Linked DNA regions of Homo sapiens. The protein of the gene in region 2 interacts with the protein of the main gene of each other region in a pairwise test. Each region holds a gene or a part of one and is shown on either strand. Other genes may lie near its edges.

Region 1 (3,824 bases), on a different chromosome or scaffold from region 2:
ACTTGGTTTCATGCTTACAGAAATATTATTTTCCTCTGGTGAAAAATCTGTAAGCTCCCAGAGTAAGCCTTCCCCCAATATCTCCCTAGTCAAAAGCTTTTGAATTGGTGTGAAATATTCTTCCTTCCCATACCATCATTGAACTTAGTTGAAGGTAGACAAATAGGCTGATGATGAAAACAGACTGAGATCCTGTTGTCTCCACACATTTACAGTCAGAAATGATGCTGGCCAGCCAGAAAGCAACAAAAGTGATGACAATCTTCTGGAGAGAAGATGTTTGTTCTTTTTATTATAGTCTACAAATGCTTATTGTAGACATCTAGAGGTCACAATAGCACATACCCTTTCACTTTAACTTTTATGAAAATGATAAAAATAAGTCCTAAAAGTCTTGGTAGTTTTCTGCTCATATGAAAATTTTAGAACTTAAGGAGTCAGTATCCATTTAAATCTATGCTTTAAAACAATTATCTCTTTACTTATAGCATGATACAATAACTGACTTTATCTCTTCTCTTACATAACTAAGAAAAGATTAAGCTGTGTTTGGTATATTGTTTAAAGTGACAATGAAATATGATTTTCCTCCAAATAGTACATTTCAGCACCCAACAAGCAAAATTTTCAGTATCTGGGAAATATTTCAGGTATTTGGTTGTATTTTCCAGAATAGCTCATTTGCTAGCAATACTAGAGAGAGCTGGCATCATGTCTTACCATTTTAGCCAACGGATCTCACAAGCCTCAAATTTTAAAAATGAAGTGCTTTGTTATAATTCTCTGAAGAATAAGTAATTATAGTAACTCATTTACTTATCTTACCAAGCCAGAAACCTGGAAGTCATCCTAGAGTCTTCCTTTCTCTAACCTGATTAATCATTTACTATAGTTAAATAGCTCTCAAAAAACATTTCTCTACCACCATTATCCCTTGTCTAAGTATTAAGCTATTAACTAAACTCACTGGGCATCAAATTATAATAATCAGACTTTGTGCTGATGTTTAGATATTTAACATCTGATGATGTACTCTGCCCTTCCTGTACTAAAAGGCTGCAAGGACAGCATGTCAATGCAAAATCATAGTACTCCTTCCAACAGAGAACTTTTCTCTTCACCATGTGATTCTACCATCTGACCTAGGAGAAGTGCCTCCAGTTATTCCAAAATGTCAACTTCTCCGATGGCCTAGAGCAGTGGTCCCCAATCTTTTTGACACAAGGGACCGGTGTGATGGAAGACAATTTTTCCATGGATGGGGTTGGGGATTGGATGATGGTTTTGGGATGGAACTGTTCCATCTCAGATCATCAGGCATTAGATTCTCATAAAGAGCGTGCTATCTAGATCCCTCACATGTGCAGTTCACAATAAGGCTCGTACTCCTATGAGAATCTAATGCCATCGCTGATCTGACAGGAGGCAGAGCTCAGGCAGTAATGCTGCTCACCTCCTGTGTGGCCCGACTCCTAACAGGCCATGGACCAGTACTAGTCCACAGCATGGGGGTTGGGGACCCCTGGCCTAGAGGCCTGGTTAGATTTCTATTCCCTTTTCTGTTAGCATTTATGGATAAGCAACAAATGAAACAATTTTAGAAGCAAAATGCAGTAAAGCCCTAATCCCAATAAAGTGTAATGTTCATATCTTGATTATATGACAAATAAGATAATGAAATAACAAATCCATCTACATACGTATAACTGATTTATATGTTTTTACTGAGTCAAACATCTCTGGCATTTAGCTATCTAAAAATACAAAAAAAAAAATTTAAAGCAAGGCAATTACCTGAGGAGAGTCAAAAGGATATCGACTACTAAATTTAAATAGAAGTTGAAATTTTTCCCCTTCATATAAGGTACCTGGTGCACCTTCCATGTCTACAATCCACCTAGAATAGAAAAGGCAAATTAAAAACTTAAGATAATAGAGACTGGGGTAAGGAGGAGAAAAGAGGACACCAAGTACTTCCTATACACTAAGCACTAGGACAAGAGTTGGTTATGTGTAACAGCACATGCCAGCCTCCCAATAACTCTCTTACTGTTAATTCTCATGACCTATCCCCTTCTCTGACACTCAGCGGTGAAATAACCAGATCAAGGTCAGACAGCTAGCAAAAGACAGAGCCAGGTCTAAAAAAGCAAACTAAATAAAACCCAAGGCCGGGTGTGGTGGCTCACACCTGTAATCCCAGAACTTTGGGAGGCCAAGACAGGCAGATCACGAGGTCAGGAGTTTAAGACCAGCCTGACCAACATGGTGAAACCGGTCTCTACTAAAAATACAAAAATTAGCCGGGCATGGTGGTGTGCACCTGTAATCCCAGCTACTCAGGAGGCTGAGGCAGGAGAATCGCTTGAACCCGGGAGGCAGAGGTTGCAGTGAGCCAAGATCATGCCACTGCACTCCAGCCTGGGCTACAGGGCAAGACTGTCTCAAAATAAACAAACAAACAGACCTCAAACTAAGGTGCACTGACACCAAAGCCTGTGCTCCTCCTAATTGATTTATACTACCTTATTTTTTCAAAGTACCATTTCTACAATGCTGATATTACGTATTCTATACATAACATCAAACAAAGCAACTGCCTCTGATTATTACTGGTGGAAGCCATGGAGAAATACGTATAGACAATGACCACAGAGAACCGTAGCTGTCAGACTTATTTTTTTCATCAACATCCTAGAGAAGATTAACAGGGCAAGGGGAGCTAAATTGACATCAGTCCACTTACTCTGATGATTAAGCAAGGCTTTGTGGTGACTTTCCTTTATCTCTCACTATGTTTCAATTGTTTAATAAAGCCCATTTCTATGCCATCTATGCAAGCCTTTGTTTTCATATATAACAATCATAAACATAAATGTGTTATTTACAGTTTATATACTATTCTTGTTATTTTCTTTAAGATGGGAAGAATAAGGGATAATGACAGCAAAGATAACAGGGCAGCATTAGAAGCAAAAGTGAATTGAAGTCATTAACAATGTGTTCCTAATTATAGCTCTGTCACTTATAATTCTTGTACACCTGGGCAATTCTCTTGAACTTTTCAGTTATTAAACTTTCTTGTATTTAAAATACAAGAAAACAAAAGGAAGATAGAAAATACAGTGTTGGGATTCTAGTCATCACCACGCATACTATGAACCTTGGATTATGTAAAATAATAAATGTACCTATTCTCTAAAAGAAATCAGCTACAGTATACAGACTCTTAAGAGCATGGCTATTCATTTTAAGAATGCACGCTGAGTACCATACATGGTAATAAAAGATACGACCACAGACCCAAGAGACAATATTTTATAGTGAAATTAGACAGTTATAACTGAAGTTATACTGAAGTCGCAGTTATAGTTAATCTTAACTCATTGTGTGAACAAGTTATGTTATCTCTCCAGTTTTAACTACCTCAATAATAAAACAGAAGATAATCACCTCATAGTGTTGTTGGAAAGATAAATGACCCTACATACGTAAAAAACCTAGCACATTCCTGACTCAGTCAATACATGGTAAATTAAATGCAATGCAAAAGCTGCATACAAAACAAAAAACTATCTCTTTATATATTAGGTCCTTCTTAATCTTCGAAATTCCTTTCTTATTTTTCCACCCACATCCACTAGGCACAGTGATATTCCCAGGAAAAACGGTGGTCTTTCATTCTGTTTATATGGTAATTTTAGGACACATAACATAAATTAACATGTAACCTATACAAACAAGCACAGCTTTTAAAAATAAAGAGCTAAGCAAGTATCTCATCAATCCTTGTAATATCTGCATGACATGCAGATACTGACACG
Region 2 (3,824 bases):
CACCTGCCTCAGCCTCCCAAAGTGCTGGGATTACAGGCATGAGCCACTGCACCTGGACAGAGTACTTTAAAAGAGTGAGTTTAATGGTAAGTGAATTATAGCTCAATTTTTAAAAAAGACATAGGAACCAGGGACTCCCTCTGGTCAGACCTAAGACAATTTGAACATTAAATAACTGCAATGGATTATAACCTATTGAATAAAATAAGAATATGAGTGTGAAGTGATAATAATGAAAGGAGAAGGGAAAGCTTCTTTTCAGTTGAATGTCAACTAATAAATGTATAAAGAATGACAAAGCAGGAAAAATCACCATGTTGCAGACAGCTTAGTAATAATTCACACAACAATCATTAATGGATACTAAAACTAGTAGGCTGAAATTTGGTAAAGAGCAGGACATTTATATGGTATCAAAGTATCTCCCCACAAACTACTTTTTTTTTTTTTTTGAGACAGTCTCGCTTTGTCACCCATGCTGGAATGCAGTGGCGCGATCTTGGCTCGCTGCAACCTCCACCTCCTGGGTTCAAGCGATTCTCATGCCTCAGCCTCCCAAGTAGCTGGGACTACAGGCATGTGCCACCATGCCCGGCTAATTTTTGTATTTTTAGTAGAGATGTGGTTTTGCCATGTTGACCAGCCTGGTCTCAACCTCCTGGGCTCGAGTGATCCGCCCGCCTCAGCCTCCCAAAGTGCTAGGATTACAGCCCACAAACTACTTAGTGATTACAAAGAAAAATTAGGAAGTTTACAGTGGAAAACCTTAGCAGCGACCATCTTAACTAAGTGATCAAAGTGAAGATCAGGCCAGGTGCAGCGGATCATAATCCCAGCACTTTGGGAGGCTGACACGGGAGGATCACTTGAACCCAGGAGTTCGACACCGTCTTGGACAGCATAGGGAGACCCTGTCTCTACAATAAAAAAAAAAAAAAATTAGCAGGGCCTGGTAGTGTACTGCTGTGGTCCCAGCTACTTCTGAGGCTGAGGTGGTAGGATCACTTGAGCCCAGGAGGTCAAGCCTGCAGTGAGCCAAGATCGTGCCACTGCACTGCAGCCTGGGCAACAAAGTGAGAACTTGTCTCCAAAATAAAAGTGAACAACAGCAATAATGCAATAAAGCAACATCTTGTGTCTTCCAGTGTGATGCACTGAGAAACAAATCACTTCTGAAGTACTGCCAAAAATGCAAAACCTAAGTAATGAGAAAACATCAGACAACTCCAAATTGAGAGACGTTCTGCAAAATAATTGGCCTTAATGCTTCAAAAATACCAATGTCATGGAAGATAAAGGAAGACAGAAGAAATGTCTCAGATTAAAAAAAGTAAAGATTAGACAGGAGAAACTAAATGCAGTGTGTGATCTTGGATTGGTTCTTGGACTGGAAATTAAAATGCTTTATGAAAATTCCTGAACAGCCGGGCATGGTGGCTCACACCTGTAATCCCAGCACTTTGGGAGGCTGAGGCAGGTGGATCACCTGAGATCGGGAGTTCGAGACCAGCCTGGCCAACATGGCAAAACCCTGTCTCTACTAAAAATCCAAAAAAAAAAAAAAAAAAATTAGCCAGGCATGGTGGTACGGGCCTGTAAACCCAGCAACTTGCGAGGCTGAAGCAGGAGAATCTCTTGAACCTGGGAGGCGGAGGTTGCAGTGAACCGAGATTGCGCCATTGCACTCCAGCCTGGGCAATGAGAGCAAAACTCTATATCAAAAAAAAAAAAAAATTCCTGGGACAATGGCAAAATTGAAATGTTGACTACACTGGCTGGGTATGGTGGCTCACACCTATAATCCTAGCACTTTGGGAGACCGAGGCAGGCAGATCACTTGAGGTCAGGAGTTCGAGACCAGCCTAGCCAACATGTCAAAACCCCACCTGTACTAAAAAATACAAAAATTAGCTGCAGGTGGTGGCATGCGCCTTTAATTCCAGCTACTCGGGAAGCTGAGGCACGAGAATTGCTTGAACCCGGGAGGTGGAGGTTGCAGTTGAGCCAAGATCACGCCACTGCACTCCAGCCTGAGCAACAGTAAGACTCCATCTCAAAAAAAAAAAAAGAAATGTGAACTATAGTTATTAGGTAATATTATATCAATGTTTCATTTCTTGGATTGATTTATTTATTTTGTTTTTTGAGACGAGTCTTGCTCTGTTGCCCAGGTTGGAGTGCAGTGGCGTGACCTCGGCTCACTGCAGCCCACCACCATGCCCAGCTAATTTTTGTATTTTTAGTAGAGACAGGGTTTTGCCATGTTGGCCAGGCTGGTTTTAAACTCCTGATCTCAGGTGATCTGTCGGCCTCGGGCTCCCGAAGTGCTGGGATTACAGGCGTGAGCCACTGTGCCTGGCAATTTCTGGGTTTTAATAACTACGCTGTTTTTATGTAAGAGAATGCCCTTGATTTTAGGACATACACACTGAAGGCTTGGGGCTATGTTATCTACAACTTATTTTCAAATGGTTAAAAAGTAATGATCACGGCAAATATGGCAACATATGAGCAGTTGGTGAATCCAAGTAAAGGGTATATATCAGTTCTTTATACTATTCTTGGAATTGGTCTGTAAATTTGAAATTATCTTTAAAATCTTAAAAGCTAAAAATAGGCCAGGCATGGTGGCTCACGCATATAATTCCAGCACTTTGGGAGGCTGAGGCAGGAGGATCACTTGAGCCCCTAGGAGTTAAAGACCAGCCTAGGCAACAAAGACACTGTTTCTACACACACACACACACACACACACACACAATTATAAAATGAAAAAAAGTTAAAAATAGAAAAGTAAGTTGAAAACAAAATGTAAATGGGAATCATCTCAGGTAAATTAATAATTTGTTGGGCTTTTTGAAGTAGCTCAGAGACTGTCATTACCCGGTTTCAAGGAGGCCTACAGATGCAGGTACCAACATCCTCATCATCGTCCTTCCGGAACCCTGTCACTCAGTAGCTTCGGGTCTCCCATGTCCTCAGGGAGGCTGTCGCAGGGCACTTGCAAGGGTGGCCACCCACCTGCGCTGGCCAGCTCAGCCCGCAGCTGGCCCACGTAGTGCAGCAGCTCCTCCAGGCTCCGCTCACAGTGCTGCCCGTAGGTCAGGAACTTCTGCAGGACCTTGTCCAGCTCTCTCTCCACGCACGCACACTGCTCCATGGTGGCCTCAGCCTGGGGAGGGTCAGCTGGGTCAGGCCCCATCTGGGCCACGGTGGCATGGCAGGCAGGGTGCCCAGACCACCTCTTCAGATCCCTCTCACCATTCCCACATCATGTATCAATGTTATATGTTTTGTACATATATGTATATATGTACCTATGTTTTGGTAAGCATATAACATCCCATCTCCTCACTCCACTGGGGTGCCCAGTGGAGGATGCAGGCTGGTGTGAGGACGAGGTTTTTCTTAATCATGGTGAGAAAATTATTATTCCATTTTCAACTCTTTTCATGCCTTAATTTTTGTTCATCTCCCTTTTAAATCAGAATAGAGAGCAGGCCTCACAGAGCCCTTAGCTGGCAATACTATCTAACTAGAAATCCATATACTGCATAATGTCATATTACACGTATGTATTTTCTTTTTTTGAGACAGGCTCTTGTTCTGTTGCCCTGGCTAGAGTGCAGTGGCACAAACTCAGCTCATGGCAACCTTGATCCCCCCAGGCCCAAGGGATTCTCCCACTTTAGCCTCCTGACTAGCTGGGACCACAGGAGTGTGCTTCTACACCTGTCTAATTTAAAATTTTTTTTCGTAGAGACGGGTCTCTCTGTGTTGCCCTGGCTGGTCTCAAACTCCTGGGCTCAAACGATCTTTCCACC

Evidence for each region.
Region 1: the proteins of RMND5B (region 2) and UBE2W interact in a two-hybrid assay, tested with the Homo sapiens proteins (one large-scale study listed by BioGRID and IntAct).

The regions. Positions count from the first base shown.
Region 1 is NC_000008.11:73,823,353-73,827,176, forward strand, and holds part of UBE2W (ubiquitin-conjugating enzyme E2 W), read right to left. Parts: intron 1,898-3,824; coding exon 1,795-1,897; intron 1-1,794. UniProt on the Homo sapiens protein: Accepts ubiquitin from the E1 complex and catalyzes its covalent attachment to other proteins.
Region 2 is NC_000005.10:178,137,456-178,141,279, reverse strand, and holds part of RMND5B (E3 ubiquitin-protein transferase RMND5B), read right to left. Parts: intron 3,173-3,824; 5' UTR 3,161-3,172; coding exon 3,022-3,160; intron 2,998-3,021; exon of another isoform or gene 2,884-2,997; intron 1-2,883. UniProt on the Homo sapiens protein: Core component of the CTLH E3 ubiquitin-protein ligase complex that selectively accepts ubiquitin from UBE2H and mediates ubiquitination and subsequent proteasomal degradation of the transcription factor HBP1.